Homo sapiens: one gene and its partners. The protein of the gene in region 1 purifies or fractionates together with the protein of each later gene. This does not show direct contact. Each region holds a gene or a part of one and is shown on either strand. Other genes may lie near its edges. The genes, in order: ITGA5, RAB35 and PCDH1.

Region 1 (3,645 bases):
CACGCCTGTAATGCCAGCACTTTGGGAGGCGGAGGTGGGTGGATCACCTGAGGTCAGGAGTTCGAGACCAGCCTGGCCAACATGGTGAAACCCCATCTCTACTAAAAATAAAAAAATTAGCCGAGCGTGCTGGCACGCACCTGTAATCCCAGCTACTCGGGAAACTGAGGCAGGAGAATCCCTTGAACCTGGGAGGCAGAGATTGCAGTGAGCTGAGATCACATCTGTACTGAGCGACCCCAGACTGGGCGACAGAGTGAGACTCCATCTCAAAAAAACAACAACAAACAAACAAAAAATAAAAACAACTGAGGCTTCAGGAGTCATAGAAATTTTGAACCAGAAGTTAGTTTAGGAAACATTCAAGGGAAATCCATCATTTTATGCCAGAGAATCCAAAGCTTGAAGAGAGGCAGTGACTTGGCCCAGGACACTTGAAAGCTTGAGAGGCAGGCCAGTCTCAGCTCAGCTCCTTGTTCCCTTCTGCAACTGCCACAAGTGGAGACAGCTGTTCTTCCCCAGCCAATCATACATATCCCTTGTGAATGCACTAGGGGACCCCAAACCAGGTGTCCTCCTCTGGCCTGGCCCATGCTGCTGTAGGACCTGTAGGAGCTGGGCGCTGGTCCACTTGCTGCTCTCCACCCCTGACCTTGTCAGGCCAACAGAGTCAAACAGTAACCCAGTATTGAACTGGGACTTGGTTAATCAAAAGCTGGGGAGATAGCAGATATGAGAGGAGGGAATAAGTTGGCAATGGGGTAGACTAGAATGCTGTCGTAGAAATCAGGATTCCTGATTTCTGCTTCATATTCTGGGAGGGATTATGAGTGACCTAAGCCCATTACTTAACTCCTCTGAGATAGTTTTCCCATCTGCAGAATGAGAACATGGGACGAGGTGAGCAGCTTTGAACTTTTTCTTAGGGAGTGTCAGAACGAGGCCAGTCTGCCTTTATGCCATGTGGCCTCAGGCACCTACAGTGAAGTCTTAAAACCAGTGGATGCTCTCTACAGTGCCTTCTAGCTGTGGTAGTCTGTGTCTCCAAGGACCAACCCTTCCATTTCTGAGGCTTCAGAATAAATTCTGGCAGTTATTTCTTCTCTCAGACTCTATTTCAGAAAAGTGTACCTGCCAACCTGCATTTAGTAAGAAATAATGAATTCCTTTTCTCATTCTTTTTATTTTTATTTTTTATTTTTTTGAGACGGAGTTTCGCTCTTGTTGCCCAGTCTGGGATGCAATGGCGCAATCTCGGCTCACCGCAACCCCCACCTCCCTGGTTCAAGCGATTCTCCTGCCTCAGCCTCCTGAGTAGCTGGAATTACAGGCATGTGCCACCACGCCCAGCTAATTTTGTATTTTTAGTAGAGACGGGGTTTCGCCATGTTGGTCAAGCTGGTCTCAAACTCCCGACCTCAGGTGATCTGCCTGTCTCAGCCTCCCAAAGTGCTGGGATTACAAGCGTGAGCCACCACGCCTGGCCGTTGTTGTTGTTGTTGTTGTTGAGAAGGAGTCTCGCTCTGTCTCTGGACTGGAGTGTAGTGGCGTGATCTCGGCTCCCTGCAAGCTCCGCCTCCCAGGTTCATGCCATTCTCCTGCCTCAGCCTCCCTAGTAGGTGGGACTACAAGCGCCCGCCACCACGCCCGGATAATTTTTTTGTATTTTTAGTAGAGACGGAGTTTCACCATGTTAGCCAGGATGGTCTCGATCTCCTGACCTCGTGATCTGCCCGTCTCGGCCTCCCAAAGTGCTGGGATTACAGGCGTGAGCCACCGCACCTGGCGCTTTTCTCATTTTTTATTAACCAAAAACATCTATAGCTGCCAATCAGAGTTTCTGACCAGCATGAGATAACCAGGTTCCCACATAAGTTGATATAATTCCAGCCAAAAGCAAATACACTTGAGGTTTTAATTAGCCTAGGCCACCTTATCTGGTAAATGCATGATTTCCGTTAGGCTTTCTGAAATATTGAAAATAGCACACGGACCCTCCATTGTTACCTTCTTAGACCCCTAAAAGTGCCCAACTGCTGCAGGATTTAGGAAGCAGGAAAAAGATGTGGGAAAATAAGGACAAACTAGCTTGCATGCCATCCATGGCACCAGTCACCTCACTTGGCGTGTTGGCAGGGGAGGCACTATTTATTGGATTGACTTTAGGTTGCTGGGATGGAAGGGCCACTGCCTGTCCAGGAATAAGCCATGGGTAGTGTGCCGGGAGGAAAGGAGGCCTAGGTCTGTGTCCCTTGCCTGCATGCCAGGTATCCTGAACCATCGCACAGCCGGAATGGATATGCCCCTGGCTTGTGGGCTTTACAAGCTTTGTAAACTCTCTGTCTTGCAACCCTGCTAAACTCCAGGCTACTTCCTCAGGCCACCCCAGGAGTGTCAGGCTCAGCTCCTCTCCAAGAGCAGTGGGTGTTGGAGAAATTGGCAGCAGGAATAGGGTCCCTTGGCCTTAGCCCTGTGCTCCAGGAAACTTTGAGAGAACCTCTTCTTCACCCAGAGGAAGAGGGAGAGGGTATTGCCCAAGTCCACAGTTAGTGCCTGAACCAGAACTCTTGGCTCCTGGTCCAGTGCTCCTTTCACTGCTTCCTGTACCTCTGCTGTTCTGGTCTAGTTCAGGTTGGTGGCCCTTTCTGCTTTCTAGAGCCTGAAGGCAGCAACCAAGTTCTCTGGGGGCTGCCCCTGCTGAGAGAGGGGTCTCCTTCTCTCACATCACCCAGCCCTAGGGCGGTGCAGCCAGACCCCACAAGTGGATGTCATGCCTAAGTGAGAAGGGTGGGGCCTGGCACGGAGGTGGGGGTGTGGGAGACAAACGGAGAAGTGAGAGGTTGGAAACAGACAGGAAGCCACAGGCAGTAAACATTTCCTGTCCCCAGAGTAACGGAGACTGGCACCTCCCCTCCCCACCCCTCCTAACTTCAGGAGCTCTCCCTCTTCAGCCTACCCATCTCCTATTCCTCTGGACCCTGCCTTCTCTCCCCTCCATTCTCACCACTGGCCCTCACAGACCCCTCCTCACTCTCCTCTTCCGTCCCCTCGGACCTGTCCTCTCTGCTGCTTCCATCCCCTATACCTCCTGGGCCACTCCTCCCCGCCTCAGTATACCTGGTCTTCTTGGAAAATACCCCCAGCTCTTGTGACCTCTACCATAATCCTTCACTTTGGGCCTTCTTGCCTAGTGAGAAAGCTGAGGAAGGTATTCAAATATCAGGGAAAGGGTAGGTATTGGACGGGTTGAAAGCTGAAAGTGAACAGAAACCAATAGAGATGGAGAAATGTAAAATCTGAGATAGAGAGATAGGATTCAAAAACCAAAACCAAGAGAGCAAGCAGTCATAGGGGCAGAGGGACAGAGGGATTGAGAAGCAGTGCCAGAGGCAGACACAGAGCAGAGCAGAGGCCAAGGCTGGCAGGAGCACTGGTCCAGAGGCTGGGTCGAGTTGCCCAGGCTGCCAGATACAAGTCCTGGCAGGAGACCCTTAGGGGAAACCAAGAGAGCCAAGAGCGGTGTGGAGGTCTTGGAGGCAAGAGACCTAGGGATGAATGAGGCAGAGCTGACGGCAGGAGGACTGCCCAGGCCCTTAGCTATGACCACCCCATTACACAGGGCAAACTTCCCCTCATATCAGGGGG
Region 2 (3,645 bases), about 66 Mb from region 1:
TCCGGCCGCCCACCGGTTGCCCACCTTTGTGGCTGAGCTGCAGGCCGGGGGGAAGCTGGGCTCCTGCGCAGATGGGCAGTGTCCTTCGGAGCGGCTCCTGGTTATTGGGTTGTTAGTGGAGCAGGTTTTAGGAAAGAGCAGGGTCTGAAGGGGCCGATTTGGAGCTGTTGGGCTGTGTGTCCTTAGGCAAGTTGCCGAAGCTCTCTGCGCTCGTTTCCTGGAGGGCCTGCCTCTGGGATTGGCTTCCATGTGGAGGGTGCCAGGTGCTCTGCTGCAGGCGTCAACGTGCGTGCCGGGGTGTGGTGTCTGGCAGCTCTGTGTGCTTGGTGCTGCTGTCATCCCATTTGACAGAGGGCGCCCTGGAGGGGTCCCTCCCAGCGGCCAAGCCTGTGCTCCACACAGTGGCCTGTGCAGAGTGAGGGGCGGCTGTCTGGCTCCACGGGCACCTCCTTGGCTCTCTCGAGCAGCTCCTCTGGAAGTGACCTCAGGAAGGCGAATGAGGAAGTCCCAGCCAGCGGCCCCCTTCCTTCCCACAGCATGAAAGCCCGGCACTCCCCAGGCTGGCTGCCCCTGCCCCCGGGCCCCTCGGCATCTCCCGAGGGTGGGAAGTGTGGGGTGCAGCGCCCCCATGGATGGCTGGGAGTATGGGGGAGAGCAGGGCTGCTGGAGAGGGACAGGTGTGCTGGGCGAGCAGCTCCTGGGGCTGGAGCCAAGGCGGAGGGCTTGTCACTGGGTTCACCCTATGCTGAGCACATTTGTGCTGTGGCCCGTGATGCCCGGAATCCCTGGGAGCTCCCAGTCCCGGGGTCGCCCTGGTGTGGTGCTGTGTGGTGACCGTTGATGAGCCCTGTGAGCGAGGGCTCTGTGGCCTGCATGTCTTGGCAGCTGCCAGTGAGAATCTGCGGAGGACACTGGGGCAGGGCTGGCATCAGTGCTTTGGGCAGCCTGGGGCTGCAGGCCCAGGCGAGGCAAGCCCTCATGCCGTTGGCTGGTCTGGGCGCTGACCTCATGAATCCTTGCTCTGGGTTGGTCCTGTCGCTAGGATTTCAGCTGCTTTATTTTGGTTAATCCCGGTAGAGAGACCTGTGACTATCTCCATTTTATGGACAGGAAAACAGGCCCAGGGAGGATGAAGCCTCCTAACTCAGTGGGGCAGAGGTTGGGGGCACTCAGGGTTGGCCCTGAGTCTGCCGAGGCCCTGCATCGACTGGGCAGGTGGCGCCCCTGCCTTCCTGCCCCGTCCTGTGCCTTAAAACCAGGCGGAGGTTCAGGGTGGCAGAGGTTCAGAGGCCCGTGGCCATGAGGAATGAACTCCTGGGCAGGGCAGTGGGGCCTGGGGGGTCCGAGGCTCTTTCAGCAGGAGGAGCCACAGCCCCTCCCTGCCATCATGCAGTCAGCTGCTTTCTGGGCTGGGCAGAGCGGGAAGAAGGTGAACTGGTTCCTCCATTCCGTGGGGAGGCGGGGAGGAGTCACTCAGCTTCCTGGGAGCAACATGGGTTTTTCCCCAGGGGCTTGGGAAGGGGCGGCCTGTGGGCAGCGGCTGGGCCCCTGCTGCCGTCCCACGTGTCTGGGGAAGCAGACAGGTGGCTCCATCTTAGAGTCCCGCTCTGGCCCTCATGAGGCAGGAGGCCCAGCAGGGCGCCCTGAGGGGCCACTGGAAGTCTCGACGCCCTTTGATGGTCACTGGCAAAGAAGGAAGGAGTTTTGGGGAGGTGAGGAGTTTTCAGGAATAGGGCAGTCAGGATGCAGTAGCGTGACTTTTTTCCGATGCAGGGCGTTCAGAGAGAAACTGAAACTGCATCCTGTTAGCCTGGCGAGAAAAAGCCTTGTGGTCACCCCTTCTCGGGTTCTTGCTCTCAGAAGCTGAGGTTTGCCGGCCCTGAGAGGTGCGGGTGGGATGGAGGTGAGGGGAGAAGTGACAAGGAAGGCAAGGCCCTGGCGTTGGGCCTGGGAGTCAGCCCTGGGCGCCAGGACTTCCAGCTGGCCGCTGCACTCAGCCTCACGTCCTTGCTGGTCACATGGCCATCCTGAGGTCTGCTGGATCAGGTGGCTGCAGACATTAATAAGGTAATGGATACCAAGCCCCCAGCTCTGTGCCTGGCCTAGAGCAGAGTCCCTGTGAGTGAAGGTGATTCCTGGTGGCCATGGGAAACGTCGGTGCTCCGGTTCCTCCTAGCCAGAGCTCTGAGCCCCTGACTTCATCCCCAGACAAATTCTCTGCTCTCAGATAAAGCCCCTTTCCTGGGCCCCGGATGAGGCAGAGGCGCCCAGGGAGCCGCGGGGGCTGTGCGCCGGGGCCATGGCTGCAGGCGTTTCTTGGCATCTCTGATCATCTTCAGCAAAGGAGAGTCTGCAGAGCCATCCGCTCCTTGGGCTTCCTCTGCTGGCAGGGGACAGTCGCCTGTTCCTGTGGCTCCGGCGCGCCCTCGCTCTGGAAGGCGTCTGACACACCATGCCATGTGCTGACCCGGCGCTCTCAGCAGCAGCTGCCAAGGCCAGAGCTAGTTCTTGGGCCCAGTGCCAAGAGAGCTTGATCGTCACAGCTACCCCGAAGCCAAGGAGCGACGCTGCCCTGGAAGCAAAGCTGTGGGCAGAATGAAGCCCTGGGAAGAGATCCCAGCGGTCGTGTTGAGGATGGAGCAAGGATGGGGCAGGGGCGGTGGCAGGGGCAGGTTGGGCTTTGTCCCAGGGCTGGGCAGGAGCTCTGGCTCTGCAGCATCAGGGAAGATGCTCAGGGCTGCCCCTAAGCTGCCTGTTGGTTTCCTTCCACCACCTCTGTCTGGGACCACAGATTGTCCTTGAAGGCACATTGATGATGCTGAAGAACGCATACTGACTGTTTACTGCTCCCCCGCCTTGGGGTAATGCTTAGCTCCTTTCTTCCTCATGACCACCCCAGTTAAGGACTAGCCACCTGTGTGCTATAACTGTTGAAGCTGCAAGGTGTGGCAGGGTGAATGCAGGCACCTTCCCAAGGGCCAGCCTTTCAGAGATGGAGCCAGGGTTGGTCTTTGTCCTTAGATCGGGCCTCAGATGTGAAGCATTGGCCAGAGAGCTGATGGGCAGGTGGACAGGAATGGAGCTGCAGCCACAAGTCAGCCTGGCTGCCCCATTCTTGCTCAGCCTGCGCTGACTTGGGCTGTTCCTGAACTGGGGCTTGGGCTGTCCCCATGAACCTCATGGGGGTGGAGGTAATTAGGGCTGGGGCAGGTGGCAGCCAGAAAGCCGGGAGGAAGCGGCCTGTCCACTCATGGTTTGTCTGTGTGCTGTCCTGAGGAGCCCTGGGGTGGAGGTCCCTGCGGCTTTGGGGAGAGGGGACAGAGGGACAGCTCTGGCTGATTGCACAGTGTGGGGCGGGGCTGCCGCCTGGCCTCCGGCTCTTCGACAGCTCTCGGGGAAGCGGAGGCTGTGGTCCCCCTCCTCCTCCGGGGATTGATGTCGTCCTGTGCCACTGGGATGAATGGGGACATGGGGTCTGGAGAGGAGAGTTGGGCCTCCCCTTCCTTCTGGCCTTCCTGGCTGGCCCTGGGCTCTGCATGTTTGGGGTGATGGCTTTGCTGGGCGCCCTCTCCCCAGCCATCCCTGGATGCTTGTGTGGCTTCCATGCTTTTCCTGCCACCTGCACAGATGAGCCAAGAGTAGCAG
Region 3 (3,645 bases), on another chromosome or scaffold:
AGGAAGCTGTTCTAGAAACTGCAGGCTATGCTGGTGTTTAGAGGCTGAGCTGGAATTAGGGGAGTCGGGTGGTATTATGTTACTCTGGTATTGGGCTCTACACCGTATTACAGGTCATTCTGGGATTAAAGGGAGGCTGTGCCAATATTGGGAAGCTGGGTTAGAACTAGAAGGGTTGTGCTATAACAAGCGGTTGCACTGGATGAGGGTTATTGGGGTAGCATAGGGGCTATAATAACACTGGGGCCTGCGCTGTATTGGGACTTCCAGTATGTGGACTTGGCTGTACTAGGAGCGGTCCTAGAACTCAGGAGCTGTCTTTCACTGGGGCCTGTGCTTTCGGGAGGAATGTGCTGTGCTGGGGCCTGGGTCTCTTCTTGGTTGCTGTTGAAGCCTGAGTAGGATGGTGCTTGGCTTGTACTAGGGCCTGGTATGGTGGTGGGCCCTGTGGGCAAGCTGGCTGGTCAGTAGTGACAATCTGTCTCCCTGCAGTTACCTCACCGCCGCGTCACCTTCTCGGCCACCAGCCAGGCCCAGGAGCTGCAGGACCCATCCCAGCACAGTTACTATGACAGTGGCCTGGAGGAGTCTGAGACGCCGTCCAGCAAGTCATCCTCAGGGCCTCGACTCGGTCCCCTGGCCCTGCCTGAGGATCACTATGAGCGCACCACCCCTGATGGCAGCATAGGAGAGATGGAGCACCCCGAGAATGGTGAGGCGCAGCACCATGGTCAGGGCACCCCAGGAATGAGTGGAAGCCTGGGAATGGTGACAAGGCCTTAAACAAATCATCTATGTATTGAGTTATTATGTGCTCAGTCATCATCACCGTGCTGAGGGCTTTCAGGTATACACGCATTTAATCCCCAGAACCACTCTGTGATTTGAGAACTTTATGGCACCCACTTTACAGTGGAGGAAACTGAGGCTTAGAGAGGTTAAGTCACTTGCCCAAAGTCATACATCTAGAACGTGACAGACCTGGGAGGGATTCAAACCCAGGTTTCTCTGACTCCAAAGCTGTTGCATTCGGCACCATGTTTACACGGCCACCTGGGAACAGGGACCCTGAGTGTGGTGGCCAGAAAGCTCACGTAATGGTGAGGAAACCTTGAGAAGGTGGGTGGTGGTCCTCTAAGGTTGGGAAGGCCTTGAGAATAGAGATTGGGCCCTGGATGCTACAGGGGGCTCAGAGAATGGAGTGACGATATGCTGGGGTGAGGAGTGGGAGAAGGTTTGGCACCTCTTTGAGGAAGAGCGCGGTAGGAGGTCTGGTGAAGAGAAAGGCCTGTCTGGGAGGGATTTGGAGGGTGATGGCAAAAAGGAGGTGTGAGCCAGCGCAGAGGTCGGCATGGGAATGGATGGTGAGGTGTGCCGTCAGTGTGTGTGCAGTGCGTGTGCATGTGTGAAGTCGTCCATGGCAGCCTGTGGAGGGGGAGAGTGAACGAGCTAACCCCTGAGATGGAAAGACTCTCTAAGTTGGAGTTGTCCTCGGGTCCCACCCACTCCCTCAACTCAAAGCCTCCTCGCTCCACAAAAGATGGGAGGTTTCACTCCCCTGCCTCAGGCACAGGGCCCTTGTCTAACCTCCCGGGCCCTTGTCTAACCTCCCAGGCCCTAGGTCTCAGAGTGCCCTCCACCCCCACCCCGCCCCTCCATGCGCGATCTCATGCCCGTCTCATCCTTTTTGTGCCCGCGCAGAGCCGGCTGGCCGGAGCAGGCCCTGAGGCAGAGTGCCAGGTATGTGGGAACTGCTCTGGGGTCTGGGGTCTGTGGGACTCTGCCCAGCACCCAGCCTCACCCACCCAGTGCCCATGCTCTGCTCTGAGCCATGTTGCGTCCCCCAACTCTGCTCTGAGCTGTAGAGCCTTGGCACTTTGAGGGTTAACAACAGAGCTGTCCCCTCCTCACCTGGCACTGGCAGGAGGCCAAGCCATAGTGGGTGGTGCCAGGGGAGCCCCTGTCCCAGGCAGTGTTGCTTAGCCATGTCCCTTGGGGGTGGGGGGGGGTCACTGCCTGGTGCTGTCCCTGAGCAAGGGCAGGACAGGGACAGCTGTGACAGGAAGTACTCATGGCCCAGCCGTTCCCATGGAGACCCCCGCTGCCCAGCAACTACACCGGCTACTGCTGATGTCAGGCAGCCAACTCCTGTTCCCGTGGGTGTTCTGGGCAGGGAGCTGGGGCAAGGCCAGGGGTGGTGGCTGGTTTAGGGGCCAGAGTGAGGTGGGGAGGGGCTGCATGAGCGTGCTTGTGGATGTGAGTGTGTGCCTCTATGTGAATACCCCACACAGAAGCTCGTCCCTTCCCCCTGGCTTTAAAGCAAGGTCTTGCAGGAGGAGGGTGGGTTCAGGACCACCGGGAGCATGTGAAGCTTGAGGGGGTTCTGAAGGAAGCAATGTACCCAATTTCATCTGAGGATAGAGGTGCCCACTGTAGTAGATTTGTGTATCCATGCCTATCTGTGTGTGTGAGAGGGAGAGAGAGAGAGAGTTGATTGTGTCAATCAATTCAATGAGGATGGAGGTTTCCTCAACCCCACCTGAGGATAGATTTGCACATTTAAGTCTGTCTGGAGATAGATGAGGCAGTGTGTAGATGAGTGTGTGTTTGTGCACCTGTCTGAGGGCAGATTTGGTGGGTGTGTAAGAAGAGCACTGGGGGGTAGGTGACGCTGGAAGGAATGTGTCTATTTAGGGCTTGGTGGCTCATGCCTGTAATTCCAACACTCTGGGAGGCTGAGGCAGGCGGATTGCTTGAACTCAGGAGTTCAAGACCAGCCTGGGCAACATGGCTTAAACCCCATCTCTACAAAAAAATATAAAAAATTAGCCAGGCATGGTAGTGCATGCCTATAGTCACAGATATTTGGGAGTCTGAGGTGGGAGGATTGCCTGAGCCTGGGAAATTGAGGCTGCAGTGAGCCAAGATCACACCACTGCACTCCAGCCTGGGTGACAGGAGTGAGACCCTGTCTTGAAAAAAAAAAGGATAAGGCTGGGTGCGGTGGCTCATGCTTGTAATCCCAACACTTTGGGAGGTCAAGGTGGGTGGATCACCTGAGGTCAGGAGTTCAAGACCAGCCTGGTCAACCTGGTGAAACCCCATCTCTACTAAAAATCCAAAAATTAACCAGATATGGTGGTGGGCGCCTGTAATCCCAGCTACTCGGGAGGCTGAGGCAAAAGAATTGCTTGAACCCGGGAGGTGGAGGTTGCAGTAAGCCGAGATTGCGCCATTGCACTCCAGCCTGGGTGACAAGAGCAAGACTCCATCTCAAAACAAAGAAAAAGAAAAAGAAAAAAGATAGATTATGTGTGTGTGCGTGTGCGTGTGTACAGTAGGCCAGTAGGTCGATGGTGGGAGGGCATGTGTCTCTTTGAGGGTGTGTGTGCCTGTGAGTTCAGCGGTCAGGAAGGGGCGCATACTCCTGTCCTGAGGTGGGGTGTAGATGCCAGTGGGAGGCCATGAAGCAGAGCTTTGCAGAGGCTGTATGTCTGACAATTGTCCTTCCCCGCTCCCTCCTACAGACCTTCGCCCTTTGCCTGATGTCGCCATGACAGGCACATGTACCCGGGAGTGCAGTGAGTTTGGCCACTCTGACACATGCTGGATGCCTGGCCAGTCATCTCCCAGCCGCCGGACCAA

The links.
Region 2: the proteins of ITGA5 (region 1) and RAB35 purify together in Homo sapiens (affinity purification with mass spectrometry; one large-scale study listed by BioGRID and IntAct). This does not show direct contact.
Region 3: the proteins of ITGA5 (region 1) and PCDH1 purify together in Homo sapiens (affinity purification with mass spectrometry; one large-scale study listed by BioGRID and IntAct). This does not show direct contact.

The regions. Positions count from the first base shown.
Region 1 is NC_000012.12:54,412,708-54,416,352, reverse strand, and holds part of ITGA5 (integrin alpha-5 precursor), read left to right. Parts: intron 1-3,645.
Region 2 is NC_000012.12:120,099,655-120,103,299, reverse strand, and holds part of RAB35 (ras-related protein Rab-35), read left to right. Parts: intron 1-3,645. UniProt on the Homo sapiens protein: The small GTPases Rab are key regulators of intracellular membrane trafficking, from the formation of transport vesicles to their fusion with membranes.
Region 3 is NC_000005.10:141,854,319-141,857,963, reverse strand, and holds part of PCDH1 (protocadherin-1 isoform 2 precursor), read left to right. Parts: intron 1-492; coding exon 493-712; intron 713-1,701; coding exon of another isoform or gene 1,702-1,727; exon of another isoform or gene 1,728-1,740; intron 1,741-3,527; coding exon 3,528-3,645. UniProt on the Homo sapiens protein: May be involved in cell-cell interaction processes and in cell adhesion.